Linked DNA regions of Homo sapiens: all the other regions are linked to region 1. The links come from fine-mapping of genetic effects on gene expression. A gene starts in region 1. Each other region holds a variant in brackets. All regions are shown on one strand. Distances are between the middles of the regions.

Region 1 (8,110 bases):
TTCATGTTAAAGGCACGTGTCATATGTGTAACTTGTAAACATTTGTGTACTTGTCTCTGTGTCCTTACACCTCAGGCTTCAACTCTTGTTTTTACCTTTATCAATGACTACCTGTGTGCTGTGTGGCTTTGGACCAATTGCTCACCCCCTCTAAAGCTCAGTTTCTGCATCTGTAAAATGGATATAATGCCATATATACATAGATATAGATATACATACACAAATATATATACACACATATATATGTGTGTATATACATATATATGTAATATACAAACTGAAATATATAGTTATATAAATATTTCAGTTTAAGTTTCAAAAATCACTGGAGGGTATTTTTATAATACCCTTCGGCAATTTTACCTGCTGCCTTTGCACATTCTGGTGAATTTCTAAATGGAAGTCTGATAGAGATTAATCTTTTAATGCATCATAAATAAAAAAGAAAATCACAGAATGATGTAGCTGGAGAGGACCCTGGGGATCTAAAGTGTTTCATGAAAGATTAATGTCCTTGATCTGTTTGTAAGTGTTTTGGAAAAATCTTCCATGGTCAAATAAAACTTGGCAATGTTGGATTAAAGTTAAATAGGTTTTTTTTCCTGCAGAACTTCATAGTCTTTAATATGCTAATGTGTTTTGTGAATCTACAAGGAATGAAGTGTTTCAATACTTATTTTACCCAGATTCTCATTTTGGGACAGGCTGGTCAAACTGAGTCAGCTAGTATATTCTCTAGATGGAGATGATGGCTGATGCCTTTTTGAGAGCAAGAGAGTCCCCAGGGGAAGCAAGGATATATCAGTTGCTCCTATTTCATGCCAAGAATCCTCAGTCTTTAGAGGCTCAGAGAAGGCTGAAAGGCTACTCTAGGCTATCAGGGCTACCATTCATTGTGACCCATGCTACAGAGAAGCTTTGAGCTCAGTGCAAAGGAGTGACCAGCCCTTGAGAATCAGGAAAATTTATTTATTTCTGACCTAGTCCACTGAGGACATACAAGGAATGGGGCAGGGGAATGTCACCAGCTATGGTTACAAGCTAGTCTGATTCTCTTTCATTAAGAAAACTGGTCCCTGTGAGTTTAGATTGGGAAGCACCAGGTTAAAAAAAATTTTTAGGCCAGGAGTGGTGGCCACTGTACTCCAGCGTGGGTGACAGAGTGAGAATCTGTCTTAAAAAAAAAAAAAGTTAATTGATGTCTTCTGTTGAGGACCTCTCAGAACTTTTAATATGAAAGTGTGCATTGTGAAGAATGGGAGTAGAGTGTACAGGAGTTTTAAAAGCTACTTGGTCATGAAACTCTTGCTTTGTGCAGGATTCGAGGGGCACTAACATTCTGAGGAAAATATTTTGGGAAACATTGATCTAATCCAAACTTCTCATTTTACCAGCAAACAACTGTGGGGCCCTCTAAGTTTCCTTTCTCCATCATTGTGACAAATTCATTGGAATTAATTCAATTAAACCTGGGGTCAGCTTTGAAGAGATTTATTTAGCAGGTAAATCTGTTTTGTACATTTTGAGGGAGTTCTGAGTTTCCATAGTCAAAAACCACAGAACAATTTAACCAACCTTTATGGAATATCACCTATGGCCCAAAGACCCTTTAGCTACAGTGATGGTCTACAAAAATATAAACTGTAATTCTTGCAATACAGGAGATTAGTAATAATGGTAAATATAATGATGATGACACCATGAATAGCTAACATTTATTGAATGCCTTTCTATTAGTCAGGCACTTTACTAAGTATTTTAATCCTCCCAACAATTTATGAGGTAGGGATTATAATAATTCCCATTTTATAGTGAGGACACTGAGGTTAGGAAATTATCCTAGCCTAAATGTTAGGTATAAGCATGAATAGAAAGGTGTTATCAGCCTATAAGACATTCCTTTATGAGTGATACAAAGTCCTATATAAATTCAGAGAAAAGACAAATGGTTTTAGAAATCCTTGATCAGTGAGTGTGAAGCACGTGGTGGCCCGGTTACTGTTTGGTTGCCCATCTGTCCTCCCTCTGGGGATCAGCACCCCCTTACTTTGGAAGACTTGTTTTCCTTGTCACTGTAAGGTTCTTTCTGGCTATGTGGTAGGGCACATTGCCTCAAACTAGCCCTGTTCCAGTCTTTGAGAACCTTGAAATTGGAACCAAGGGAAGAGGATTGCCTCTTGAATGGTAATTCTCTAAAATCTAGTCTGAGGTGCTGGTGCCTAATCCCTGGGTCTGTGGAAGGAGCTGGGCTGTGAGAGGGGAGAATGATGTTGATGTCAAGAGAGAGGCAGGTGCTAGGAGCAGAGAGATGGAGGCCTGGAGGGTTTCTGGGCTTCTCTGAGGCTTAGGGTTTGGATCATTGTCTTCGTTACTGGAACAAAGGATTTACCATACCTGCTCTTCTGGGAATGAAACTGTCCTGCTTTGCAAAAAAAAGTGTCATTAGAAAGAGATCTTAAAAACCCCACACCATAGACAGGTGCACAGATCCCTAGAAGTGTTAAAGTTCTGTCTGTTGGATGCTAAGCCAAGACTCTTAAGTATGTTCTAAAGAGAAACTGGTGTGTGTAGGCTGTGCACTCCCAGGGAGATAAAAAGTTAGGAACTTTATGGGTTGGGCTTGGTGGCTCACACCTGTAATCCCAGCACTGTGGGAGGCTAAAGTGGGCAGATTGATTGAGCTGAGGAGTTCGAGACCAGCCTAGGCAACATGGTGAAACCCCATGTCTACAAAAACTACAAAAATTAGCTGGGCGTGGTGGCATGTACCTGTAGGCAGGAGGATCGCTTGAGCCCAAGAGGGAGAGGGTGCAGTGAGCCATGATTGTGCCACTGCACTCCACCTGGGTGACAGGAACTTTATGGGAAATGGGATCTTGGAGACTGAGTAGAGACTAGAGGAAAAAAAAAAACTACCTCCCCGACTGGCCACACTATTCTTTTAAAAAAATGTTAATTGACAAATTAAAATTGTATGTATTTACGGAGGTATGATGTGATGTTATGATATATGTATACATTGTGGAATAATTAAATCCAGAGAATTAATAGATTCATCACCTCAAAACCTATCTTTTTTGTGGTGAGAACATTTGAAATTTATTGTCTTAGCAATTTTGAAATACACAATACTTCATTGTTAACTACAGTCACCATGCTGTGCTGTAGATCTCAACAAAATATATTCCTCCTGTCTCAACTAAAACATTGTACTCTTTGACAACATTTCCCCATTCCTCTCACCCCCTCCAAAAACACCCATTCTTTATGTTGAAGAGAATGGCTAAAAAGTCCCAGCAGGTTTCAACAGACGGCTTCAGTGGTTGTCCCATCACACTTCAATGTTATTAATAAAAAGGGGAGGGGCAATACATAATTCGGACAGGCTGAAAGTACCATTGTAACCACTTTCTTGACTTCACAGAAAAAGTCCTCTTGTTTTCATCTGTAAAATGGGAACTGCATGAATACCATTCTTCTTTTCTTCAGCCTCCAAAGAAAAAACAGATGCAAAGCCTTTAATCAATTGCAAAACAGTATACAATGTGTGTTATTACTCACAGTTGTCTTACTGTGACCAAACACTTTATAAGCCTGCGGCAAGTCAGCCTTACTCTCAGTAAGTGGACAATATTTGGGGAAGGAGAAGCAGCAGGATATTTCAGGACAGTAGCCTTGGTGGGTCCAAAAATTCCTTGAGAGAAATGGGAGATAGAACTTTCTTCCTGCTTTGGGTTTTATCCTGTTAGTCTTTTCTCTCTTCACTCCTATTTTCTATGGAGAATTTCCTGGTTTTGGAGTTTGGGTGCGTTTTATGGAGAGGAGGCAGAAAATCTTTAGCTCCAGCAGAATGAAAGGATACATGCAAAGGAACCTAGCACAGTATCTGGTACCCAGGTCTCCTTTAACTTGGCTTTATTCATTCACTCCTGGTAGGGCATTAATAAGGGATTTAGCCCCCTCCTATTGAAAACGATTAATTCAAGGAAGAGTTCAGACAGTGTGGACAGATACAGTGTAGGAAAGCCTATTTCTAAGGCAGGAGCTGGGTAGGGAGGGTGAGAAGGGCGAGAAGAATAGGGAAATATGTGTCGTCTGTGTTGCTGCTGTTGCAACCACCACAACAAACAAACAAGTGAAAAAAAAAAAAAAAAAAAAAAAGAATTGTCCATACCGGAAAGTGTGCTGTTTTGGAGGAGGCTGGGGAAAGTGTGGATGGCTCGAGTGGGTCCTGTTGGATTGAAGTCTGACAGTGGTGATTCCCTTCAACAAATGGTCGGGGTGGGAGGGTACACACACACACACACACACACACACACACCCCACACGCAGCGCCCAGCCTCCGATTTCAGCGCTGGCAGGAGATAACCATTCTTAGCTCGCCTTTCCAGGGTTATTTTTGGCTGAGGCTGTTCGCTGATGGCAAAAGGTTTCAGCCCCCTCCCAAATCCCTCCCCGTCCTTGTTCTAAAGAGAAACTGGTGTGTGTAGGCTGCGCACTCCCAGGGAGACAGGGAGACGGGCCGGGCGCCGGAGAGGAACCCGGACTCTGCCCAAAGTCTCGCCGCCCGCCGGCTGTTTTCTGGCGGAGGGTGTGCCCCGGAGGGCGGCGATCGCGGGTGAAGGCTGGGGCCAGGCGCGGGTGGAGGCGTCACCGGGGTCGGGCTAGCAGGCCCTGGAATCAGGCTTTTGGGACACCCCGAAAGTGAGTCCAACTTGGGGAGAAACTGAGGGCAGCTCGGGCGGTCTGGCAGCGGAGAAGGTGGGTGGGAGAAAACTTTACAGGAAGGCAGAAGCAATCTCTGCCGAGAGAGTCAGCCGAGCGGCCGCGCGGAGAGGAGGGGCGGGCGGTCCCCAGGCGGGCGGGTGCAGGGCGCAGGGCGCCGACCTGCTGGAGAGGGGGCCCGGGCGCGAGGCGGAGTCCCGGCGCGCAGCCAGGCTGGTGGAGGCCCCCGGCAGGCTGCAGATTCCCTCCGGCTCCGGGAGCCGCAGCAGGACCGGCCAGGAGGCGCCATGGAGGGGAGCCCCATCCCGGTGCTGACAGTGCCCACCGCGCCCTACGAGGACCAGCGGCCGGCCGGCGGCGGGGGTCTGCGGCGACCCACCGGCCTCTTCGAGGGCCAGCGCAACTACCTGCCCAACTTTATCCAGAGCGTGCTGTCGTCCATCGACCTGCGCGACCGTCAGGGCTGCACCATGGTGGTGGGCAGCGACGGCAGGTACTTTAGCAGGACGGCCATCGAGATCGTGGTGCAGATGGCCGCGGCCAACGGGGTGAGTGTCCGGATGCCCCTCGCTTCCCGCCGCGCCGCCGCCATGCCCTCTCCTAGCCCTTGTCCCCCTGCTGCCTCCGGGCCCAGTTGGGAGGCCCCTGCCCGGCCCCGGCTTTGCTACCTCACTCCCGCGTCCTCACCCTCCAGCGCCCCACTCCCGCCGCGCTCGCAGCCTCCCCGGTGCACCCCGGACACTGGGTTCTATTAGTACCCACCGCCCCCAAAAGCCTTGAGGGGTTTCCGTCGTTCCTGGAGCCACTCCGGGCGCCCTGGACTCTTCTCCGACTCTGCGCACATCCCGCACCTGCTCATTTTTCTTTCGGACATTCTCTTACCCGGCCCTGTAGATTCCAAGGCAGCTCCCAGTTTTCCATATTGTTCCCAACGCATTCACTGCCCACAGTCCCCACACAAACTTCTTTCGCAGGCTCACAACATAGTCCCTCTGCCCCGTGCCCTTTTTGCAATAATCTGCCAGTCCCCTAAGTCTTAGCTCTGCCTATTTAACAGTAGTGGTGTCTCAGAACACACACACACACACACACACACACACACACACACACACACACACACACACGATCCCTGACATATTTGGCAAGAGTAGGCCCTGAAGGTTTTTATTATTTTGGTTCTTTAACCCAGTGGAATTACTGAATGATTTATTTAATTAGGGTAGGGATGGAGTGGATCCATTTGTTTGATGCTAAACAGCCTGAGCTCGCAGTTCCCAGGGGGCATATCTCTAAATGGTCTGAAATGAGATTTGCAGTGGTTTTCTTAATGCAATTCCCAACTTCTCTCCAAATGCCTTTTGGCATTTGACAACATTTCATGCCTCTTCCCCTTTCGGTTTTCATCCTTGTTTTCTCTCCCTTCTCCCACGACCTCGGTAGTCTTCTGCAATCCAGATTCTCAGACTTCAGGTTTTTCTCCCTCTGCCCCTTTCCTCTCTGTCCTATAACTAGAAGCACCTTTTGGCATAGACCCATATCCCAGTTTCCTCTTTCCCAGGTCCAGCAGCATCTCAAGGACATCTACAAGAGGGATACCTAATTTCAGGGGTCTCTGAATTATATGTGGGAAACATCGTCTAAAAAAGTAATTTTATCCTTATTCATGCAACCAGACCCACACTCATAGAACTTTTCTTTAAGGAAAGTGTCTTGCAGATGTATAAATGAGTGTTAACATCTTTAAAAGCGAAACTGAACAATTCCCTGGCATTTGAATTCCCTCCTTCCTTCCCAACCCTCTCCTTTTCATTTTCTCATTTATTATTAAAAACATTTTTAAAGGATCTCCATGCTTCATATTTATCTACTATAATTCCTCCTTCTCGGTGTTGCAGGGATGGGGAAAGAGGATTTTTTTAAAAACATAATAAAACGCAATTGGGAGAAACAGGGCCAGTGGTGTTGGGGTGGGTAGTGGAATTGTGATTTTTGACTCCAGTAGACAATGATGCTGGATATATGGGGTTTGATTTATCTCTGGCTCCTCACTTGGGATTGATGAAGTTTGGCTAGAATCAGGGAGTTGAAGAGAGGTTGACAAATGGTCTTTCACTCTTCTCTGACAGGCTGTTCCTGTGGAGTGATGGAGAATAACGAGCCTTGGGAGAGCTATGGGAGCTCTCATACTTCTTCCCGAGCCAATTTTTTAGGGAGTGAGAGAAACATGGCCTGTCCAATACTTGTTGTGGGTCAGGATATTTTTGAAGCTACGGTTGTTGATTTGCATGGGAAAATTATTATGTCTTATTATTTCTTGTCCCACTTTACCATAAGGACTCCTCAGCTTCTTACTTCAATGGGTCTTCTATGACAAACACACTTTATTAACTCTAAGAGTGGAATTTATTTTAACAGATAATTAGCATAGGTCAATATATGCTTAAAATAGGGTCAAATTAAACCTACTAGCTGTTATAAAGGACAGATGACAAATTAAAATCCACATAGAAGCATCGACTCTTAAATAATCTGAAAGTACTACTTCTAAGAGGGGTGGGCATGGGTGAAGGGAATGGTGGACATGTTTCAGAATTTCAAACAGCCAACTTTAACCAATCTTTTCCTCATTTTGTTCACCTTCTTGGGGGCTTATGCTAAAGTGAAGTGAATAGCCATAAGGCTGGCTTCAGGAGAAAGGTGGTCTAAAAGAACTGGATAATTATAAGCAAAATTGGTCTTGAATGATTGAAAATTGATGAGAATGTGCTTGTCTCCTGATTTGGCATCCTGAATTAGACTCAGGAATACTGAACTTGGATCCCAAAGGCTTTGGTCTTTTTTGATATCCTATTGGATACTCATAAGCAGGCTAGAAAAATAGAAAACTAGAATTTATTCTCTTTGAACTGACAAATCTAACCAGTGGGCTGCATTCTCTATATCTGAAAAATCTTGGTTTTGATTGAAAAAGTTAATTTTACAAAGCAATTTTCTTTTTTTAAATTAAATTTCATTTTTTTTGAGACTGGGTCTCACTTTGTTGCCCAGGCTGGAGTGCAATGGCACAGTCTTGGCTCACTGTAGCCTTGACCTCCCCAGATTCAGGTGATCTTCCCACCTCAGCCTCCTGAGTAGCTGGGGCTATAGGTGCATGCCACTATGCACAGCTGATTTTTGTGTTTTTACTACTCATAGGGTTTCTCTGTGTTGCCCAGTCTAGTCTCAAACTCCTGATCTCAAGAGATCTGCCTGCCTTGGCCTCCTAAAGTGTCATGAACCACCATGCCCAGCCTACAAAGCAATGTTCTAGGAAAAACTACAGTTACTCTTTGATTATGTAATTGCTGGAGAAGAAAAACATGGCATTTCTAAAATGATGAACTAT
Region 2 (8,110 bases), 90 kb after region 1:
CCCAGCTAATTTTTGTATTTTTAATAGAGATGGGGTTTCACCATGTTGGCCAGGCTGGTCTTGAACTCCTGACCTCAGGTGATCTGTCCACCCTGGCCTCCCAAAGTGCTGGGAGTAATCACACTTTCTAATTAACAGAAAGCAATGTGTTATTAGCAAAGGCAGAGATAATGAAGCAGAATAGAGAGTCCAGAAATACACCTAAATAAATGTGGCTGACTGATTTTTGACAATGGTGCTAAAGCAATTCATATGAGAAGGTATAATCTTTTCAACATATTTAAAGAGTTAAAACAGTTAACCCAATTAAAATTATATAAAATGTTTTAACAGATACTTCACCAGAGAGGATATATGGATGTCAAATAAGAACACGAAAATGTGTTCAACATCATTAACCATTAGAAGATGCAAATAAAACTGTGATGAGATACTGCTACATAACAATTAGAATTGCTAAAATAAAAATTACTGCTAATACCTTAGTGTTGATGAGGATGCATATCATCTAGAGCTGTCATATAGTACTGATGGAAATGCCAAATGGGCCACTCTGGAAAGCAGTTTGTCAATTGCTTATAAAACTAAACAGATGCTTACCATATGACCCTGTACTCCCACTCTTATTCTATAGCTACAGAATTAAAACTGTACACAAATATTTATAGCAGCTCTATTCATAATAGCCCCCAAAATGGAAACAACTCAAAGTCCTTCAACAGGTGAATAATAAACTGTGATATTTCTATACAATGGAATACTACTCAGCAATTAAACAGAAGTACTGATACACACAACTTGGATGCATGTCAAATGATTTTGCTGAATGAAAGGAGCCCAACTCAAAATGTCACATACTGTATCATCCCATTTGTATTATGCTCAAAAAGACAAAATTATGGAGACAAAAACAAAGCAGTAGCTGCCAGGGGCTAGGGGTGGAGGGAGGTGTGTGACTTCATGAGGGAGTTTCTGTGGTTGATGGAAATGTTATGTTTCCTGATTGTTGTGCTAGTTCCATAGATCTACACATGTCAAAATTTATAAAACAGAACACAGCAAAAAGTCAATTTCACTGTAGGTTAATTTAAAACCTTAAAATATATTTCAAAGCTTCCCTCTTAATCCTAATGTGCTGTGCAGCTTGCGTACCACTTCTCTGGAGCAACTACCAATGCTAGACCTCTTTATCAACTCTCCTCCAAAAAGTTAGAACTTATTTTGGAGAATCACAGTAAAGGGCAAGTAACTTGCAGCAGAAGATAGACGGTCATTTCAAAGCAAGAGCAGTAGAGAGTCTGAGAGTCCTTTGTTCTGCCAAGTCAAACAGAAAACATAAATATTTGTATAGCTTTGTAACAAAAGAGCAATATGGGTTTTGGCAGAAAGACCTCTTAATCGCATTTAAGACTTTAAAGTAATGGAGCCCTGCTCCTATTATGTGGAAATTGCATGCAGATGTAGTGTACATCAGGGATCAGGGTCCTGTCTGAGGGAGACAATGTTAAAGGTAAAACCCAGACTGACAAGGAGGGCAATCTGTCTACTTGTGCAGATATGGTGGAGCCCATTTGCTTTTTGGCACTGGATCTTGAGGAGATTGCATGTGCTACTTAGAAGAGTCTCTCTCTTTCTTTCTTTCTTTTTTTTTTTTTTTTGGATCACTTTGCAGTTGTGAGTTCATGACTTTCTATTTTCAGTTGCACAGATAGCCTTTTAGTTCAAGGATGGGGTGTTTTGGGATCAAAGACAGAAATATTGAGCTATTTGGAATAAGTAGAGTGGTGGGCATTGAGGGAGACTGGGATTTCCAGTACTGCCTCATCCCCACCCATCCAACTGCAAGTCTCACATCCTCTCTGCTTCCAAAAGGGAGATATTTGACCCTAACTTCTCTTTCCATAGGATTCAGTCAAATGCTAGTGCATATGGTTATGATATAAGGAAATGGGTCAAGTAGAATTATTGGGGTGCTAGAAGCAAGACCAATTTTAGATTACTTAAAAGGAATGCAATGGAAGGATAAGGAGTAACCCAGAATCAATGAAAAAGCTGGTCTCAAAAATAATAGGAACCTAGGTGGTAGGAATTATGTATGGGCAATCTCTCCAGAGAATTATCTTCCAGATCAAGGAAGAAATGACATACATTTCCCCCATTCTCACTTCACTCAAGATTCAGCATTTTCTTAGTATGAGTTGAGTCGCATGCCCACTCTTTGGCCAGGCAAGAGGAGATCACCTTGAGTGACATACACTGGGGAGGGGAAAAGTTCTACAAAAGTAAACCAGTGGTCTCTTGTCTTCAGCAGGGGTTGGGTATTTGAAAGGCAGAAACAACAGCTTTCAGATCACCATGGTGGGTTATTCTACATTTTAAACTAAACACCCCTGGAGGGTGTACAGATAAGCAAAGAAGGGGTACAGGAAGGAGTGGAAAAGGTGGTGGGTATTATGGCAGAAAGAGCAATAGTTTTGGAACTAGACCTGGACCAGAACTCCCACAGGGATTGGCCTTCAGCTGGCATTACGACCCCAGGGCAAGTCAGTTACTCTGCCTGGAGCTTTGCTTTCTTCATCTAAAGACTGAAGAGGCTGAACTAGCTGTCCCCTAATATCCCTTTTTGTTACAAATCTTAAGAAATATATACTTTGGGTCTAGGGCCATAACTTAATTTCTTAGCTGAGTATAAAACTGTGTTAAACTCAATAGGATTTTTTTTTTAATGCTTATAGCAGTGGTCTTCAAATGTTAGAGTGCGTAAGAATCTTATCAGGATTAGATAGGTGGAAAAAAAAATCCCTTGTAAAATGCAGATTTCAGGGCCCCATCCCCAGAGATTCTGATCCATTCTTTCTGAACAGAACCCAAGAGTCTGCATTTTTAAACAACGTTGTCAGGTAATTCCAATGCAGGTGATCAAAGCTAAAGACCTGCACACCATCTGTTTGATTCCCAGTCCCTAGAAGGAAACCCCATCCATTGGAGCTGCAAGCACTTAGAAAATGTTTAAAGTTGAACAACTGGACATACCCTTTGAAAGCTCCCTCCTAGGCTCCCTAGATAGTGTGAGGATGCTTGGAATACAGCAGACACCAGGGTAGCCAGGGGCTCCACCGCCTGCATATTGGGACACAACGTGGAGATCTTGCATTCTCTCCTTACACTTGCTCACTCACTCTGACTCAAGTGTAGCCATTCAATAAACCCAAAGGGTAGAGAGTCTGCTGTGAGTACCTTGTGAGTTTTCCTTATTGTTCTGATCGTATGAAGACCTTAAATAGAACCTTTTCAAATTCTATGTATTTGGGCTCAGCAGTGCCTGCTTTAGTAAATTTCTGGTTGTAAGAAGTTTAACCTTCAGGCTAAACATTTACACTAAACACCTCTCATTTGGGGAGTTACACTGAAGGGAGTGTTGTCCATTGTTTTCTTACGTGTAGTTATTTGTGCTCTACCATGTATCTGGGGATCTCCAAGTGCCTTTTAAAAGTAATCAGTTTCGCATCAAGGTGTTCCTTACAGACATGTGGTTTACAAATGGTGAAGGAATATTTTTTATGTGTATAAAATGCCTGAGTCTTTCCCTGTCCACTACCTTGTATGATGCTCCATTAAAATGTAGCATGGATGCCAAGAGTTCCTTGGCTTTTTGAGGCAAGATAGAAGAGATTGGTCATTTGGCCCAGTATGTCCTTCCAAATATATCCAGAGGCCTGACCAAATGAAAGTGAATTATAACAAGGGTGAAAGTAATTTAAATAATGTCACAACTTATACTCAGTTACATCCAAGGAAACCAGTTGTGTATTAAAACCAATAAATAGTAATTTAAAAAGTAATAATTCAAGGAGGACATTACCACAATGTTTGAAATAACTATGCATATTATATGGTTTACAATGTGCAACACACTTTCCCATACATTCTCATTTCATACACCCTCTTGTCTTCGTTGCGTCCAACCTTAGGATAGAGAGTGAATAGGGAAACTTGGTCTATAGCCTCTAACAACATGGGCAAGGCCCATTAGGGAGAAGAACTCTTTGTAGAGGACTGATCCCCTATTTCTTTCTGTGTTCTGTTTAAAATGAAATTGTTGTCTCTGTTCAGAAGCCTGATTGGTTGTGTACGTGCTGTGCGTGTCTCTGTGTGTATATGTGTTTAATGGGGAAACGAAGGCTAGGAAAGGAGGGAGATAAATTTATGAAGGATGAAGTCTACAGGTTTTTATTCTTGCTTTATTTTTCACTTTCTCTAATACTGGGGTGGAGAAGCTCTGCATATACTTTGGCTTCATGAAATGTTGACATTCGAGAGAGGAATAAAAGTGTTTATTCTCTAGAGTTAAAAAGAAACTCAACTCATCAAGTGTGTGTTCTGTTCCACTTGGTCTTATAAGTCATTTGCCAGCAAGATGAGCTTTATATCGTCTCTCTGGTAAAACATCCTCCCATCTCCTGATCGGCATTCCTCCACTCTTTTGCTTCATAAATTAGAAGGGAGGATGCCATTGTAATACTTGACCTTATAAGGGGGAAGAGTGGCCCAGCCGTTCCTTAGCTCTGCCCTCCTGTCAGAACTGTATACACTCTGGAGGCCTTTTAAGGGAACGTGGTGC[G/A]TGCAGGGAAAACATCCCAAGGCAGACCATCCATTTTCTTTGCTACTGCAGAGTTGGTGCCTGCAAGCTCTGTGTGACTCTGAAGCATAAATCATAAGGGGTTGCTGGTGCCAAGCCGGAGGGAGGGACATGTCTGAGGATCATGCTCACTGCCAAATGCAGCCGACCTCTTAGTTTTCACTAAAATCCCATCTCACCACTGGCCTTCTGACTTTTAGTGAAAATTTCACAAGTTGCACATCCTGACATTACTTGTACTTGCCTCCCTGTTGTGAATTATAATGATGGCTGCAGAGAAGCAACCACTGCCTCCTTAAGGTTTCAGTTTATCCTTCCTGCGCTGTACCATTCACTTCTGTACAGTGAGGCTCGAGTTTGGAGAGAGAGAGAGAGAGAGCTGGCTTTGAACCACAGGGCTTTTTTGTACTAGCTCTGAGGCCTTGGACAAGTCATATAACCTCTCTGAGTCTCAATATCCTCTATTAAGAATGGGGAGGATAAAGGTGATAACATCCTTTTATAGTGTTTAGCACAATGCCTAACACATAGTAAATGCTGAAATGTTAGCTGTTATTATTATTATTATTACTACTAGAAGAAGGCTATAGTTTTGGTGTTTGCAGCAAGTATTTCCTACAGTTCCACTATTTCAATCCAGCACGCTTTTTATAAACAATTTTTTATAGGCAAAACATATCCAGAAATACCCATAGAGGTCCCTAAGAACATCTTGGCATGATTCAGTGTACAGAGAATGGGTTCTGGAATTGGACAGGACAGGGCCTGACTCCCTGCCCGGCCACTTACCAGTTCATAGCTTTGGACAAACTATTTAATCTCTTGGTAATTCAGTTTTCCAGTTAGTAGTCTGAGGATACTGGTTGTTTAAATACAGGCATTTGGGTTGCCAGGGGCAGAAACAAATTAAATTGGAGCAAAGAAAAAGAAAGGGTTTGTTGCAAACCTATAGAAATTTCACTGAAATAAACTATGGTTTATTTTACAAGATGGGGAAGAGGGAAGAGGAAAAGGGGCTTTGAGGGGAGGAGGGGCTTCTACTTGTAGGCAAATAGGTTGTCTTCTCCAGTAGCTTCTAATCCTAGACTCACTTCCTTCTTTGAAATCCACCTTTTTGAAGTATATTTCCCAGTAAACAAAAGTCTGCAGGAGAGGCTAAAAATCACAGAAATGTGACAGTATGTGTCCTCCAAAGGTATGAACCCTCTGTTCTGGGACAGGTCTAGCAGTAGCAACGCTCTTCCCAGGGCACCCAGGTAGCCGAGTCACCCAGGGAGGGGTTGTTTGGGGAGACACTTAGGGAAGGCTGCGTGTAGCCTCTCTTGAGACCCCTGCACCTTCATGCACAGCCTGTTCCCACTTAGAGGCTTCCACCCAGCACCCAAGAGTCATGCTAATTTCATTAACAAACCTGCATTAACCAGGACCTCTCTTCTCTTCTCAGTTAGCTCAGGGGTTCTCAAACTCTTTTTCTGTGTGCAGCCAAAGTCCACTTGCAGCAGGAGCACCACTTGCTACCTGCAGTGATTTTCAAAGCAGCTGGGGCTCTGTATATTAGAATCTCTTCACTCCTGAGTTTTTGATAATCCTTCTTACGCCCATTGGAATATAGTCCAGAGATCATTGTTCAATCAATAGGCACCCCTCAAGCCCTGTTCATTGCCAGACCCTGAACTGAGTTGATATTCAGAGAAAGACACAGCCCTTGTCCTCCTGAAGCTGCTGGAGATGCATGCAGGGGACAGCATAGTGTGAAAGGTGTTGTGGCAGAAATGCTCTAGGTGCTATGGGACAGCAGATTGTGGGCTGATTGTGTCTCTCTGGGGAACCCCAGGAGGGGCCTCTCATTCTAGACTTCTTCACCCACTTGGGCTACTATAGTAAATTACCATAGACTGAGTGGCTTATAAACAACAGAAATGCATTTCTCACAGTTCTGGAGGCTGGGAAGTCCAAGATCAAGGACCCAGCAGATTCAGTGTGTTGCAAGGGCCTGCTTCCTGGTTCATAGATGGCTGTCTTTTTGCTGTATCCTCATGTGGCAGAAGGGTCGAGGGAGCTCTCTGGAGTCTCTAATGTAAGGGCACTAATCCCATTTATGAGGGCTTCACCTTCATGAACTAATCACCTCCCAAAGCCTACCTCCTAATAATATCACGTTGGGGGTTAAGATTTAACATATGAATTTGGAGTGGACACAGACCTTTAGTCTATAGCCCTGGGGCTCTAGCTTTGCTTCCCAGAAGCTGAGACTGAAAGGACAATTAAGACTCAGCTAGCCGAAGTGAGGGAAGCAGCATCACCAAGCCCTGGAGGGCAAAAAGAATGGCTTGTCTGGGAATTGCAAGCCTTTGGAGTCCCTGGAAAGTAAAATTGAGGAGTATTTCCTCAAGAGAGGAGAGATTCTTTTCCTCAAGGTGAACTTCAGCTATGGGTGCCCTCTGATGGGGACCCCATGGTCAGAGAGCTTTCAACTCACACAGGCACCTTCCCCTACCCAAGGTAAGGATTTCTGCCTGTTAAGTGATAGCTGCATTTATGGAGTGTTTATCATGTGTCGCAACTGCCCCCATCTCTGCCTATGAGCACGTGAAGGCTTGTAGAAAAGCAGTGACTTACCCAAGTCCCCAAAGCTAGTGAAAGGTGGGCATCAGGATTTGAACCCAGGTTTGTCTACCCAAGGAGCCAGAGCTTGTTTCACTCTACTGCACAGCCTCTTTAATCTTAGATGCAGGAACTGAGGATAAGAGAGGATAAATGACTGGCTTACAAGTGTCGCAGAATTAATAGTGTAAGAGTGCAACTTCAAACCCCAGTCTGTCAGATTTTAAATCCAGTGAGATGCTTACAGCTATGGGGGTAGGGTGGGGAGGACAATTGCTTTGCTTACATTTAAGAGAGATGTCCAGGGGAGGCAAGAGTTGGACCTCAGCCTGCTGGGGTTTGACCAGTATAGTCAGCATGCTCACATGGTAGACTCTCATACCAGCACCAATGTTCAATGTCAGTTCAAGTGTGAACCCCTTTTGAGGACCTCTTAAACACTGTATGATACATGAATCAAAATTCAGCTATTAAAATTGTGAATAGAGATATACAATTGCATATGTTAATTGATCATTGTCATTTGTGTACAGTTTGTCTTAACTATTTTAAACTTGCCTAAAAACAAGAATCTCTAGAAATAAAAAATAAAAACAAAAACAAAAACAAAACAAACAAAAAAACCACTGCTTTTAAGTACTGACACCTGGGCTCTAACCAAGACCTGTAACCCAGAATATTCTAGCAAAGAGGCCCAGGAATTCACATTTTTAATTAGCACCCCAGGTGGTTCTTATTATCAAGAAAGTGTAAAAAACTTTAACCTCTTCCGAAGGTGAATGATCAAGTACCTCCAGCTCCCCCAACTCAGAATGTTTTACAGCTTGCCAAAAAGAGGGGGAAACACTGTCCAAGCTTGTTTGCTAG
Region 3 (8,110 bases), 31 kb after region 1:
TAACTCTTCAAAATTTGGTGTGCATTTACAATTGCAGCACACCTCAACTTGACTAGCCACATTTTAAGTGCTCAACAGCTAAATGTGACAAGTAACTATTGTATTGGACAATGCAGTTCTAAGGATTGAGATATTTTAAAAATCAAGAAACAATTTTTGTTCAGTAGAAAGTTACAGTATAGTTGACAAGTAAGATTCATACAGAAAGCTATCTATACATCTAGCGATCATTTATACTTTAGATCTTTCAATCTACTTATTTGTTTCTCAACCTTGTTGCAAAAAAAAAAAAAATCTGAAATGGCTTGCATTAAGATATACAAGGTAAAAAAAAAAAAAAAAAAAAAGCAAAACCCCAAAAGGTGAACAAGTATTGATTTCATGTTCAATTTATTTAAAGTCTAATACTACTTGTCAATTTGGTCTTCCGAGGAAATGCATCACATATTTTTAGTTGAGCTTCATTTTGGAAGTGACTAGAGATTGTGAGTTGGGGAAAATAATTAACTTACCCTGCTAAGCTCACACATCAATTAGGTAGCAGAGCTGGGAATAGAAAGCATAGTCTCCTCTTCTAGATGCACTGGGGAAGCTGCATGTAAATCTGGAATCCCTCACTTCTGTCAAATGCATATCCTGTTTGTGTCTCATAACCTGAATAAAGCTGATTACGTAACCAGGTTTCCCTGGCAGGTGTGAAACTATTTTTAGGAAAGATGTGTCATTGCTTAGAAGTGGATTAAAACAAACAAACAAACATATGGGTTGTTAGTCTACATAGAACAGGTGAGGCTGATCAAATTTCCCCCATAGTGGATGAGTACAGTATAAGAAATATCAAGGCTAATTGAACTGTGAACCATTGATCATTGTTTAGAGAACAAATGAATCTTTTTCTGCCTGGTGGAGGAGGATGGTAACATTTCACTGCTTGAAACTCACGAGACTTTCAAAAACATGTATTTTTGGTGTTCACATTTTAGGTCCTGCACCCGATGTTGTCTCAGACAAAATCTACCAAATCAGCAAAACGATTGAGGAATATGCTATATGTCCTGATCTCCGAATCGACCTATCTCGACTAGGAAGACAAGAATTTGACCTAGAAAACAAATTCAAACCATTCAGAGGTAACAGAGATTTTATTTTGAAGAAGTCAGAGTAACTATGTGGATGGGGCTGACTGGTTTCTGTAGGGAAGTAAACTCATGAAAATTATTGCATTGTTAATCTCAGGGGTGACTCGATAAATGTGTGTAAACTTAATATGGTGTAGAGAGAAGACATGAGAGCAGCCAAGATATTCAGAACTGGAAACTTTCAAAAACCACTTCCCAAACTCGATATCATTTTCAACATAGGAAAAGTTTTATGGTTGACTTCATTATAGCATTCCAAAAATAGGCTGTGAATTGCCAAAACTTGTCTAAGCAATTAAGGTGAAGATGCTGGAATGCCTTAGTTAAGAAGAAACCTAACAAGTCAATGGGTTATTAAATTTCTCATGAAAGGTAGGAGTTTCTTTTCCAAGCCATAACCAAGCTTGGAATAATTATGCATCAGCTTATTGAATGCATAATTATTGATCACCTGCCCTATACCAAGCACCGTGTTAGGAGATTTTACAAAGGAATTCAGTAACTATCAAATATATTTAGGCAAGTGATTCAAAAATTAAAGAACCAAAATGAGATTGTCAAAAATATTATCTTATATTGTAAAGCAAATATAACTTCTACAGTATTCAGAAGATAGCTTTTTGTTTTATAGATTAATTTTAGACCATATGACAACAACATTAATAACATGTATGTATACATTTTCCCCCTGTATTTTATCATATTGCTTTTTCCTAGAAGGCATAGAATAGCAATAGATCTAACATGTTTTACTTTTTTAGTGCTTCTATAAGCTTGAATGCAGTTTGTGTTAAGATGGTATCCTCATTTTAGAAGTAATTTAACTTAGCCCAAAAGAGGAAATACCTGGTTTGTGTCCATGTGATATTTTAGGGATAGAGAAAAGATTAAAATGGATTGTGTGGGGGGTCACAGTATTTGCCCAATGTTACCAAATCTTTCTTGAGAAGTTTTGAGTCAGTTGTTTGCTTAGGTAATGAGCAGAAATTTACAGAGAGCCATGATACTCACTGGAAGCAACAGTGCCTGCTTTTGCTAATCTAGCTGGGAGAATGCATAGGCATATGTGTGCACATGCATGGGATGGCTGGACAATTAAAGGCAAGGGGTACATTATATTAAGCAAAATGATTTCAATATGCTGATTACATATGGTTGGAAGGACTAGGCTTATTTTTGGCATCTTCACAATTTTTATAGTTGTCCGAGAGACCCGAATCTTCGTGGGCTCTCATTCAGGCTCATTGCTGCAGCCACATTGCTAGTTGAATGAGTTTTCTAAAAATGTTACTGATACCAGGAGATAGGTAGAGAGATTCCCTGGCTTCCAAGAATTTGGAGATAATCGTTTGGGATAATTTATGTGCTGTATTCTTGCTGGTTCAAGTGTTGAGCAAAGCTTGAGTTAATTAGGAACAAATAATTCCTTTGCATTTCACTTTAAAGTGTCAAGAGCATGAACTATATGATGTGAACTTTCAATTTTTACTGACTTCTTGTTCCCTCGTTTTTCACATTTGTTTGGTACTGTGTGTTACCTATTGTAAATACCAAATGTATTTAGGCAAGTGGTTCAAGAATTGAAGAGCCAGAATGAAATTGTCAAAAACATTATCCTATAATGTAGAGTGAGTAAAACTTCCAAAGTACTCAGGGCATAACCTTTTGTCTTACAGATTAATTTTTTTATGGTGGTAAAATATACATAACAAAATTTACCATTTTAACCATTGTTAGGTGTACACTTTATACAGGTTAATTTTTAATTACTTCATAGATTATTATGCTCCTCATGTAAAAAGATAATTTAAAAGTATCCATGTTACAAATATAATTATATTTGAATGAACACATAAATTACATTGACTTAAGTGTAAGAAAAAATATTTTTAGATATGTATTTGATCAGATGAAGGAATAATATTATATGGCATATTAAGATCTCATCCATTAAATATCACACCTGGATTTACTAAAAATTATTGAAAGTGGGTTGGTAATATCTTCAGTGCAAGTTTAAAAGTATTTCAGGGTTTCAAAGTAGTATGTATTTGAAAAATCTGAAAACAATATACGTAAGTTTCAAAATTTAGCTATGAATTTAAAAAAGCAGGGCTCCTGGACAAATTTTAGCACCTAAAGAATTGATTTACTACTTCTTGGAAAAGTACTTTCTGAGCATTAATTATACACTGATTGACAAGTATGAAAAATGTATTCTGAGCTTTTTGGTATGTCACATAAATGAATAAAACTTTTTGGATTATTGGTTACTGGGTGGTGCTAGATACTGGAAAGCATTTGTGTTTAATGAGAACTTCTAGATATTTGCCATTCATTTGGAAATTGGGTGCTAGATTGGGCATGAATGAGATTTCACGCAAACCCAGGAATATATTCATCACCAATTCTGCACTCGAATCTGGTAGGCACAATGGC[T/A]TTTGGAAAATAGGGGTCACTACTGAGGTCACTTGCTGATTTGTTTCATACCAGCTGAGTCAGTCTTTGGCCAGCCCCCACAAGAAAGGCAACTGGATATGCCAAAATGCCTCTAAACATTGAGATGTGTGCTGTGTGCATTTTTTTGGGAGGGAAAGTGGGAGCAGGAGTAACAGGGCACATTTTTATCTTAATTTATTCTTGTGGTTGATATTTTCCTTGCAAAGAAGAATTTATAACTTGGTATCATTTATACCCATTGAGCACCTGAAAAGCTTGTAGTATCTTGATTGTGCCCTGATTTGTGATTTTTGTCAACAAATGGGCACTTCGCTTCCCACATCATGTGCAGGGATATGATGGGCTTGTGACCAGAATTTCATGCTCTTAAGGTAGTGATTCTTTTTATGCTTCCAAGTATCTTTCATGGGTACAGTCAATGACATTTTCCTTTGTTTTTCTATCTTTAGTGGAGATAGTGGACCCAGTGGATATCTATCTTAACCTCCTTCGGACCATCTTTGACTTTCATGCCATCAAGGGTTTGCTGACTGGACCCAGCCAACTGAAGATTCGCATTGACGCAATGCACGGAGGTAAGCTTGTGATTTTCTCCAAATCAGTGGGCAGGAAATATTGAGACCTGTACACCTGTTGGGTTTCAGAGGTTAAGAGGAAAGTTGGATTCATAGATATTCACACAACATGTGTATGTTCAGATATTTGGAATGCTCTGGAAAACTTCAGGACCCTTATTTCTGTCTTTGGATGTAAATGAAAACAAAAGTTGAACAAATGAGTTTGAGGCTATGCATGTTCAAGTGTGGAGTATAGTAAAACTGTTATTTATTTGATCATATGCATGGCATAGTTTAAACAGTCAAATAAATAGTTCAAGATTTATTGTGAAAACAATCTGTACCCAACTCCTATCTTCCCCCAATTTGTTACCTTCCAGAGTTAAATTTTTCCATTTTTTCAGCTGTTTCTTTTTTGTATTTATCTCCCTATCATTAAATATTATGAATATACAGACCCTTGTTGGTTTTTCAGTTTTGAGCATTACTGAATTCATACTACAGGAACTGGAGCTGCAGCTCTTTTTCACCCTCTCCACCCACCACCCACCTCTCCACCCACCCTTTCCACCCACCAGTTAGGGAATCCTAGCATGCTTCCCTAATTATATCACCAGTTTGGTAAGATCATTATCTAGTGTTTACATTACCACAACACTGCTGAGCCATGCAATATGCTATAATTATATTTCCTTTACAGTACAACTTTTTGATTTCCTTGGAAACAGCAATTATCTTGTTTTCTCATTGCTTGCTTTTAATCAAGTATGTTTACCACTCTTAATCCTCAAGCTCTCCGCTAGTGTCTAAATCTTCCTTCACTTCATTTTCCTGGAGACTTTGATCTGCCCCACTCTGCCCTGGTTGCTCTCTGAGCATGCTGTCATCATGAAATCTCCCTTTATCACCATGGTAGTAATTCTTTTTACACATCTCTTATGTTAAATGTCCTGTTCCCTGGTTTCTTTGTCTGACACCTTGATTTACTCGTACATTTTGGAGGAACACATTCTCCAGGAACTCAGTGAGAGAAAGCTCATGGTAGGTAAATATTTTGTGTATTGTATATCTGAAAAGGCCTTTTATTCTACACTTGCCCTTGATTAATATTTGACTGATATGGAAATCTAAGTTGGATATTATTTTTCTTCAGAAGTTTGAGGGCATTGCTCTACTGTGTTATAGCTATTATATTAAACTTGAGAAATCCAGTGCTATTTTGATTTTTAATCCATTGTCTTTCCTTTTTCTTCTCTGGAAGCTTTTAGGACCTTTGACTTATCTTCAGTGTTCCTCTGTTTTTCAATAATGGATCTTAGTGTGGGACTCTATCTTTATTATATTGGACACCTGATGGACCCTTTCAGTCTGAACACTTGTGTCCTTTAATTCTGGAAAAGTTTTTGAATTACTATTTAGTAACCATTCTGGTTATTTTTACTACTGAATTGATCCTTTAATTATTCTATTTCCCCTTCTCCTCCCCAGTTTTTCATCTCTTTATTTTGTTCTACTTTCTGGGAAATTTCCTTGACTTTATCTTCCAGTCCTTTAGTTCTACCATTATATTTTTAATTTCCCAAAACTTTTGTTTGTATTTTCCAAAGATTCTCTCTTGTAAAAACGCATCCTAGTTATGTTTCATGGATACCATATCTTTTTAAACTTAGGTTTACTGAGGTATAATTTATACACAGTAAAACTCACTCCTGGTAGGTATACAGTTTGATAAGATTTGACCAACATATACAGTCATGTAACCACTATCACAATCAAGACTGAATATTTCCATCACCCCAAAGAGCTTTTGGCAGCCCTTTGTAGTCAAACCTCTCCCCTTATCCCCAGCCCCTGGCAACCACTCATCTGCTTTCTGCCCCCATAGTTTTGCATTTTCCAGAAAGTTATGTAAATGGAAGCATACAATATGTCACCTTTTGCTTCAAGCTTCTTTCACTCAGCATAATAATTTCGATATACATTCCTGGTGTTGCATGTATCAGTAGTTGTTCCTTTTACTGCTGAGTACAATTTTATTGTGTTGTCGATATACCACAATTTGTTTATCCATTAACTGGTTAATGAAAATTAGATTTCTTTTTCTTCTAGTTGTTGGCTATTATAAAGAAAGATACTGTGAACATTCGTGAACAAGTCTGTATGTTTTCATTTGTCTTGGGTAAACAGCTAGGAATGGGATTGCTGAGTCATATGATACGTGTATGTTTACCTTTATAAGAAACGGCCAAATCATTTTCCAAAATGCCTGTTCCATTTGCACCACTGGCAATGCATGAGGGCTCCAGTTTACCTGTATCTTCACCAATACTTGGTACTGTCAGTCTTTTCCATTTTAGCCATTCTACTCTATCTTGTTAATCTCTATTAGGATATTACTGATATATTTTAAAAAGTTTTCTTTTCCCTGTATAATTTTTGTTTCCTCCAGGTTTCTCTTTACTTTTTGTTTATTTTCACCTCATCTCAAATACATTCCTCAAAATTTTGGTGATCCTTGGCTTTCTGGCATATTTAAGAATGAGGCACTAAAAATCTGCTGGGAGCTCTGAGCCTGCTATGGGTCTTCTCCATGGGCCTTACTCTAAGGGCTTCTGGCTAGGCTGTTCTGTTCTTTCTTGTTGGGCTGATCATATTCCTCAGGAAAAGAACTTTCAGGTTCTTGCCTTAGCATTATCTGGCCTACAGGGAAGACAGCTTTGCTTTTTTTCCAAATAGTATGAGCAATGTTTCTGGGTTTCAGCCTCATTGCCTGGTTTATATTGTATGTCCATCTTTGAATCAATTGCTCTGGCTAGAAGATGGAGGACGCTGATTGCGCAGACATAGGTCACCTCCTTAGCCTTGGGGAGGTGGGATTTAGCCATACCCAGACCCCATGAACTGAGATGGGGAAGAGAGTTTTTCTCCAAACAAATCCCAAATGCTGTATCCAGAGGAAGAGGAAATGTGTGCTGGGCAGGCACAATCAAGAGATGTTCACTATTGGAGGATTGTGTGTTGTATTGGTGGAAAATAAGTGGAAAGCAATATCTTTCAGATATTTCAGCTAGGAGGATTACATGCTGTTCCACAGATGTGCCTTATGTTCTACCTCAGGCTCTGTTCCCTTGCTCATAATGTTCCTTCGATTTAGATGGGCTTCCCACTCTAAACCCAAACACTTGCCAACTTTATATTATTCCGTCAAGTTCCACCAGAAATGCTGCTTCTTCCTTGAAGCCTTATGTGTGGTTATTGCTTCTCTGAAGCCATTGGATATAATTATTTCATCAATGTGCATTGTTTAGTCTTACCACTGCAGTCATTCATTTGCAGCTTTGACTCATCCCACTACTAGATTACAAGCCCAGGAATGTAGAAACTATGTGCTTTGCATCCCTTCAATATGATCCCTTCATTTCCTAGCAGAGCAGCTCCATATTGCATACTCCATAATGTTCATTGAACTGGAAAATACTATTCCTTGGCATGTATTTTGGTAAAATGTGCTTGTTTTTATATGCTTCAGTGGTTTATAGTGTTTAATTATATACTTGGCAGAGTCCAAATGATTGCAGAGACAAAGAACATTGCTAGAGCCCTTTAATGCTTTTGCATATATTCAGCTAAAACTTTTAATACATGAAAAGCAACAGACAATGAATCATTATTATGTAGCTGATTTCTTTCTGGCAACCTTTTAGAAAAATTTCAGGTGAAAAAATTTATGGAACTAGATGACTGAATACATCTTCTGTATTCCTACCACAGTAACTGGCACATAGTAGATGCTCAATAAATAGTAGTTCAAGCAAATATTGTTCTATATTGTATCTTTAAAACGATTGTAAATTTATGTTTTTCTTCTGGGTTATTAAATGGTGTTTCCTGTACTATTCAGAACAAAATACTCTGGGGAGAAGGTTCTGCAAATATTTAATATTGCTGTGTATC
Region 4 (8,110 bases), 140 kb after region 1:
AGAGACAGCATATTTCCACTATGGTGGGTATCAATCCAGAACCATGACCTATATTTTGAAAACTGGATTTGAAATGAGAAACCTTGACACTTCAGGAGCAAAATTTAAGCAACTGAGTCTCTTTTTATGACTCATCCTAATCCTATGTTGTTGTTGTTGTTGTTGTTGTTTTCTTTTTTCTTTTTCTTTTCTTTTTTTTTTTTTTTAGACAGAGTCTGGCTCTGTCGCCCAGGCTGGAGTGCAGTGGTGTGATCTTGGCTCACTGTGACCTCTGCTCCCGGGTTCAAGCGATTCTTGTGCCTCAGCCTCCTGAGTAGCTGGGGCTACAGGCGTGCACCACCACGCCCAGCTAATTTTTTTATACCCTTAGTAGAGACAGGGTTTTACCATGTTGGCCAGTCTGATCTCAAACTCCTGACCTCAAGTGATCCGCCCACCTCGGCCTCCCAAACCAACTCCTATATTTCTAACAAGCTCAAAAATCATGAAACTCTTCCAGTGCTGAAGTCATTTGCAAGTCACAGTTCAGCTGATGGTTAAAAAGCTGATGTAAATAAATGCATACCAGTTAGGTGATGTGGAAAACCAAATCCAATTTGATTATGTCAGGCTAACTCTGAGCTGATTAATACCTCTTCAAGTTAAGCAGGCTATGTGGAAACATTTTGATGTTGTCCTTAACCTGGAAAAAAAGAACCGTTTGAATTTAGTTCAGAGAAAAAGCACACTTTGAAGACTGATTTTGAAGTCAGTTTTCTTTTAGCGTTGTTATTTTAATTTGCAAGAAGGTGTCTGCTCTTTTTAATTTCAGTGTTTAGAAATAGTAAATTGGCAATCTCAAAGTCACATTTTATTTCCAGCATGTGGTGTTTTAATATGTACCTCGATGCAACAAACCCCTGGTCAGCAAATATGAAGCAGCTCACTAAGGTGTTGTCCCCAGCACTGTATAAAAGCAACTGAATCATATCAACTGGAGAATCTGAAGCTTTAAGATTGAGTTCTTCTCTCTTCAGAGTTAGCTAGTCAAATTTCAGCTTCAACTTTTTGTTTTTGTTTTTTGTTGTTGTTTTGTTTTTTGTTTTTTGAGACGGAGTCTCGCTCTGTCACCAGGCTGGAGTGCAGTGGCATGATCTTGGCTCACTGCAACACTGCAACCTCCACCTCCTGGGTTCAAGAGATTCTCCTGCCTCAGCCCCCCGAGTAGCTGGGATTACAGGCATGCGCCACCATACCCGGCTAATTTTTGTATTTTTAGTAAAGACAGGGTTTCACCATGTTGGTCAGGCTAGTCTCAAACTCCTGACCTCAGGTGATCTGCTTGCCTCGGGCTCCCAAAGTGCTGGGACTACAGGCGTGAGCCACTGCGCCTGACCTCAACTTCAACTTTGATCACATTCTAATCAATGAACTAATTGAGAGACTATAATTGTAACAATTTATCCTTGTCCCTTTTGCTGGAGTGCCATTTGCTGGAGTGTGGTTTGCGCATCTGGAAGTAGAGCCTCAGAAATCATTTTAGTCACACTGATTAACCCACCTATAGAATTTAGTTAAATCTGAAAATTAGCATACCCACAAATAGCACTTCTACACTGAGTCACAGAACTGTTTAAGTGAATGGGCTATTATCACATTTAGTTTATTGTGATTCGATGTGGGTTTAAAAAAACCTTTTTCTTTGAAAATTGTGATGTTGAAAAGAATCTCTGCAATAAACATATATTCCTTTCCTAACTTAGTCTAATATGGTGAAGGTTGTTAGAGGCTGATTCATTTACAACTTCATCTATTCAGTGAGTATTTACCAAACACCTACTAGACGCCAGTCAGCTCATTAGCACCGAGGATACAACAGTATTCAGGACAGTTGAGATTCCTGTCTGCTGCTTAAAATCTAGCAGGGAAGATAAATTGATATTAAACTTTAATTACTGTAGAGTTTGTTGAACGGTATTACAGAGGAAGAACTTATTTGGTGTGCATAGCGGGGGAAACTAGACTAGGGCTCTAGAAAGTTCTCCATAGAGAGGTGATATCTAAGTTGTACTCTGAAGAATGGGTAGAAGGCAGCCCAGGTGAAACCATTTTATCAGACTCTTTGCTTTTCTTCAGTCCAATGTGGTTGTTATATGGTTGTTTAGCTCTCCAGATAAAGAGCTAAGGTTTCCTATAGGCATTCTCAATGGGATGCTACGATAACTGTGATTAGGATTCTCAACTTCAGTGCTCACTCTACAACACTGTAGTTGGGGAAAATAAAGACAGTCGGGCTCTGTATTGCACTATGGCTTGTGCTAGGACATTTTGAAAACCATAGGTTTAAAAAAATAATTTCTACTAGCCACTTTTCCTGTGATTTTCCTATTTGTCCTCTGAAGGCCAAACGCATATTCAGTACTTTATAATGACCTGTCAGCTGATTTGAAAATAAAATGGGAAGCTGGGTGCAATGGCTTATGCCTGTAGTCCCAGCTACTTGGGAGGCTGAGACAGGAGGATTGCTTGAGTCCAGGAGTCCAAGATCACCCTGGGCAACACAGCGAGACCTCATCTCAAATTTTTAAAAAAGCGAGAAAGAAAATAGAATGAGGGAGACCCTGTTTCTGGTTAGTCGGGAAGTTCTCATCTCCCTGTTTCTGGTTAACTGGAGTATTGTTATAAAGAATTACCTTCTCCTGGCATAAGTTGATTGCTTTAGAACTATTGTCTAAAGTGTCAGTAGTAAAATTGTCCTAAAATGTGTAGCAAGCGTGTAAGCATTATCGAATGACAACACAGTTACTTTCTATTGGAATACTAATGTCTCTGTGTTGTCGGGTGGATGAGCTTCACCAGGAAATATAAATATAAAAGAGAAAAGCTGCAAATGATCACAGGAACTAAGGGAGGAAGCTATGCCGTTGTCTGGGTAAAGTGTGCCTGAATCCAAAATATCCCAGAACTGGGGTGGATATTGTGTGAACAGGGATCAGCAGTCATTGGCCAAAGAAATGGGGAAATAGAAGGTGCATGATTTTGTTCCATTGTTCCAGTTTTGAGAGTTGGAATTTGGATGAGGAATAGCTTTCAAGTCTTCGCCCTCCAGCAGCCCTCTCATCACCTAGCATGGCTTTTCTAGGTGAGTGCTTTAAAAGAGCGTGTAAGGAGTCACTTGACCTTGATTTCCCCAGATAGTTCTTTGCAATTGTTAGCCCCCAAGAAGGCTGGTTGGTTTTTAAAAGAGGCTGGGTGAGAACTGCTCCCAAGAGCAGGGCAGCTGAGTATGGCTGTGCAGTCAGCACACTGCACAATGGTACCCAGCCTAATGGGGAAGGAGAAGCTGAAGTCCAAGCCAGCCGAAGGAAGGATGGTTTTCTGCAATTTATCCATGCTGGGGGTAGAGGGGGGCACCTGTTTTTAACTCACACAAAAGCACCATATGGAGTAACTGCTGCCTTGCTCAACCACTTTTG[G/A]ACTCATGCTCACAGCTAACTCTATGAATTATTAAACAAAGAAAAATGGGTAATTCTAGGTGGGTTTTTTTAGTGTGTGTGGAAAGATACGTCTGTTCAATCCAAATCTCCTGCTTTCTAGGCTGCATGCCCACTTCTACAAAATATGGTTCAGATGTTACGAAGCAGTATCTTCACCTTGACGCTTTCCAGATAAATCGTTGTGATTTCCTGTGGGAGATAAGATCTGAGTTAGGCTCGCAGAGTCTCTCTCTTCCAAGGCTGTCCTGTCTCCAGGTTCACATGCCTGCTGTGGCCAACTGACTATATATGCGACACTGTACCAGATTGCAGGGCCATATGCTGTTTTCCCCTGGAATTCATCCCAAGTCAGTATTTGACTAGGTCCAATGCTGCCAAATAACTGTTGGTAATGTACAGTTCACCCTTCCCTGCCTGGCTACAACATGTCCTACAGTCTCCAAACTAATATCTGGCAGCTCTGTGTGTATTTAGCAACTTACAGATTTCCCTGTATTGATTTACACAAGGGTTTATTTTTAAAATTAAAAAAATAGTAAAAACCCTAACATTTATTTATCAAACATTTATCAGATACCTACTCTACATAAGGCTCTGTGTCAGCTTTGGGAAAAATACAAAACATAAGATATTGTTCAGATATTTCGCATGAGAAGCAATGTGTGAATATCAGTAGTTGCATATGGTTCAACCTCAGATTGTAAGCCTAGAGTCAGAAGACCTAAATGGAAGTAAATGAAGCTCCTCCATTTACTAAATACGTTACCTTGAGCAAGTGTTTTAACTTCTTTCTTTTCAATAAAAAGAGAGATTGGCAAGAATGACTCTAAGATCCTTCTTTCAGGATGTTAAGATCTGACACTCACAACAACCCAATAAGCTAGGCTGTATTATTTTTCAACTGCTTTTTAGGAAACTAAGGCTTAGAGAGCTTAAGTGACTCAAGACCACCAGCTAAAAAAGTGGCCAAGCCAGCATTCTAGCCTGAGTTTATCCAGTTGCTATTCTTGTATCATTTCCAAACTGACTCTTCATAAACAGCAAATCAAAGAGGGGGCAAATCCAGGGAGAAAAAGAGATGCTACAGTGATAACTGGAAGCACACTGAAGGATTTTTGTGTGGAGATAGCTGCATATGGACAAGGGTTATGAAATCCTTTATCAATCATTCTTCACTGGGACAAAGCTAAGGTGAGCAGAACTCGACTGTCATCATTAAAGCTCACAACCACAGGCACTGAAAAGTAAGGAAAACACTAAGCTGGAACTGAAGTGCTCTTTTGATACCCACACTCCTCCCCACCACATAATTAACATTGTCTTCTAATAAAGGAGAGCATATTTTTCCCTTTTTTGAGTGTGTGGCTATGTGTCATCCTGGATATTCCGGCTACTCTAGCTGCTGTGGCTAGTGAGATATCATGAATTCTTTCACAGTTGCTCCAGGAATTCCTACGAAGACTGTGCTAAAAAAAAAAAATAATAATGTCAGATGGTTCAAGAGGTGGTTCTGCTGCTGACAAGGCCCCAGGGGGAAGCTTTCAGGATTCAGTGGCATGAAGTTGTTTTATTAGCCTCACTGTGTTAACAGCCCTCCTACAGTCCCAGCCCAGTGAGAGCCTATGTATGAAACCTTAAATCCTAAAGGGACCTTCCTTATAAGGGACATGTAGCACAGTCCAGTCACTTGATAGATGAGGCAAGTGACCCAGAAAAAAGAGGTTATTGCAATTAGTTACTGCACATTAGAATCACCCAGAAAGCTTTTAAAATCCTAATTCCCAAGTAACACCCCAAAAGAATTAAATCACAATGTTTGGGGTGAAAGCCAGGCACCACCATTTTTTAAAGACCTCCCACTGATTTCAATATGTAGCATTTTGCAATTAATGAGCTAATGGTTTGCCTAAGGTCATACATCTGGGGACAAGAACCTACCATGGTTCAACTCCATTGTTTTTAGCCAAAACTGGCCCTTGTCTTAAGACATCTTGAGAAATGGTGGAGGAATAAACAGTCAAGCCCTGCCATGATGATGCTATGCCAGGCACTTTCTTAGTTTATCTTTTGCAACCACTCTTCAAGGTAGATACATCAGCTCTAGTTCACCATGAAGAACGTGCATGTGTTTTCATGTAGCCTGTGGATCCTTGCTAAATGCGAAGGCAGGCTCTCTGAGACTGCCTCAGGGGGACTGCAGTGGTGCTCACTTTAGTTGTCGAACGTGCAGTGACATTCATTCAACAAGTGTTTATGGAAGGTCTACAGTGTGCCAGGCATTGTCCTAGGCTATGTGGATAAAATGATGATGAATGAGGTATATAAGGCTCTGTCCTCCCAGAGCTTGTTAGCTAATGAAGAACCCAAAGTCATAACTCAGCAAGTCCAAAATTTTAAGGTTAACACTGCGGTGGAAACTTGTTTTATTCATTTTCACTGAGCCTTGTTTCTTCAAGACTTGTGGCGGCAAAAACACACATAATGAAGTTGTTAGAATATAAATAAGAAACATAAATCAAGACTAGGGAATATATAAGTAAGAGTAGAGTCAAGAACAGAAGAAGAAAAATTTATAGTCATGCAAGTCATGAGGATCCACTTGGGCTGAACCTCAAATTTGGCATTAAGTATCCTGGCAGCCATATCGAAAAGGGAAATGTGGTTAGTTACAAAGTTCTTATTGTCAGAAAGAAAAAGAATACAAGTTCCTTAGGGAAGGAAAGGCTTTCCTAATACTTGGCTCTTGAAGGAATGTCTCAGGCAGAGCTTCATACAGCCTCTAACAATATTTCTACTAGTGACTACAAAAGTGGATTTTATAAGACATAGCTTGTAGCATCCTGCAGTAAAAGTGAGAACATAAAACTAAAGTGCAATTTAATAAATTCATTTATGTTAGGAGTAGGTGGTGAGAGGTAAGTTGATTTGAGCCAAATACAGGTTCAGGTGAACCTATGACTAGAAGCTGGAACACCAGGGAATGGAGGGATTTTATATCCTTATAACAATCTACATAAACATAATTTCTCTCTACTGAGATTTTGATAATTCAAATGGTTATATTTTCTATCTTATGCTGTAGGGATAAAAGGCAAGTATTCTATGTTGTGAATAATGTAATGCCTTATACCAGGGGTCAGCAAACATTTTCTGTAAAGGGCTAGGTAGTAAATATTTTATACCTTGGGGGCTAGATGGTCTCTGCCACAACTATTCATCTCTGCCACTGCAGCACAAAAGCAGCCATAGACAAGATATAAATGAATGGACACGACTGTGCCCCAGTACAACTTGTTTCATAAAAGTAGGTGGCAGGTCAACTTCTTACCTACAGGCTACATAGTGCCAACCCCTAGTATAACCTAAAAAATAAATGCGATTATTGGTATTCTTTCATTGAAATTCAGGAACAATTGGAAACTTTGCAAGTCTTGGTCAGTGGTAACTTTGGCTTCATAGTTTAAATGCTATTGGGTGATGACACATGATGGAAAGAACATGGCTCGTGTCTGGGTTGCAAATTCATTAAGTTCGTTGAAAGAACATGCAGATCCCAAAGCAATCCAATACAGCTATTCACACATAAAAGGGGGCCTCAGCAGACATGGTGCTGGGATTGTTGCAGCACAGAACTAGGCTGGCTCTAAAGAAACCCTTACATTCCATGTGGAGAAGGAGAATTAATGATGTTCCTCACCTGGAATGGTCTTGAAAAGCAACATGGATTCTCAGTTAAGATCTCATGGTTAGTTTCCTAGGAAAGAGGGAAGATGCTGGACCATTTCCAGTAGGCTGATGCATGCTATTCACATCTTTGTCATCTTTCCAAGTGAGAAATCTATTCCAGGCTACCAGACATAGGTTCTAACAATCTTCTAGGCATGTAGCATGTAGTATAGTCAAAGACATTATAATTAACCTCAGGGGAAAACAATAACATTATTTCATTTTTAAAAGGCTTAGTTATGAGCAGATAACACATGTTTATAGTTTGTTATGACCTGAATTCTTAAATTTCCCCTCACTGGCCAAAAATGAATCTGAGAATGTTAATTGTTTAATGGGAGGTACTTCAAAGGGTTGAGTCTGGGGGCTCATCAGAAGAGGTAATCCCAAGTGACTTGGAATCTGCAACAGGTGGGTTAGGACCTCATCCTTAGATATTGCTTTAACCAATTTATGGGTAAGCCATAGTTCTGAGCAGAGTCACGTGCTCACGCGCCCCACGTGTAGTGACAACGGGAATGTAGGCTTAAACATAGGTAACAGCTTCAAAAGAGTTTGTAAAAACAAGGCTGTGAATATCAATATAATTGTGAGACTTTTGGGGATTTATTGTAGGTTTGAACGTAACTTGAAATACAGTGATTTGTAGACAGTCAGTAATTGCTTCACTTGCTCCATTTGGAATTTTGTAACTATTCACTTCTCCAGCAGCATAAGGTGGTTAAGAAGACAGTTTCTGTTCGTTGTAAAAAATTACTCCAGGCTTAAGGAGGACAACTATTGTGTCTTTATATTCATATACCCAGGATTTAGCACAGTGCCTAATCCATAAGGGCCACACTAAAATGTTTGCCCAGTGAATAAATCCTGGATAATATCATCCTGTCTGCAAAGCCAGTATTACAGAG

What was found. PIP is the estimated chance that this variant, and not a neighbour inherited with it, causes the effect.
Region 2: its variant is fine-mapped to the expression of PGM5 in tibial artery (GTEx, PIP above 0.99).
Region 3: its variant is fine-mapped to the expression of PGM5 in whole blood (TOPMed, PIP above 0.99).
Region 4: its variant is fine-mapped to the expression of PGM5 in cerebellar hemisphere (GTEx, PIP above 0.99).

Annotation. Positions count from the first base shown.
Region 1 is chr9:68,352,116-68,360,225 of GRCh38, forward strand. It overlaps PGM5 (phosphoglucomutase 5), which reads left to right and starts at 4,496. Exons shown (of 11, transcript NM_021965.4): 1 at 4,496-5,273. The coding sequence starts at 5,013. It overlaps PGM5-AS1 (PGM5 antisense RNA 1), which reads right to left and starts at 5,751. Exons shown (of 3, transcript NR_121192.1): 1 at 5,608-5,751; 2 at 4,175-4,231; 3 at 3,049-3,490.
Region 2 is chr9:68,442,421-68,450,530 of GRCh38, forward strand. The region is part of intron 6 of PGM5 (phosphoglucomutase 5); the gene reads left to right. Among named protein-coding and RNA genes, the nearest start is that of PGM5-AS1, 89 kb to the left of the region's middle. The variant G/A (reference allele first, on the strand shown) is at 4,622.
Region 3 is chr9:68,383,415-68,391,524 of GRCh38, forward strand. It overlaps PGM5 (phosphoglucomutase 5), which reads left to right. Exons shown (of 11, transcript NM_021965.4): 3 at 984-1,130; 4 at 4,049-4,174. Among named protein-coding and RNA genes, the nearest start is that of PGM5-AS1, 30 kb to the left of the region's middle. The variant T/A (reference allele first, on the strand shown) is at 3,579.
Region 4 is chr9:68,489,279-68,497,388 of GRCh38, forward strand. The region is part of intron 9 of PGM5 (phosphoglucomutase 5); the gene reads left to right. Among named protein-coding and RNA genes, the nearest start is that of TMEM252, 48 kb to the right of the region's middle. The variant G/A (reference allele first, on the strand shown) is at 3,456.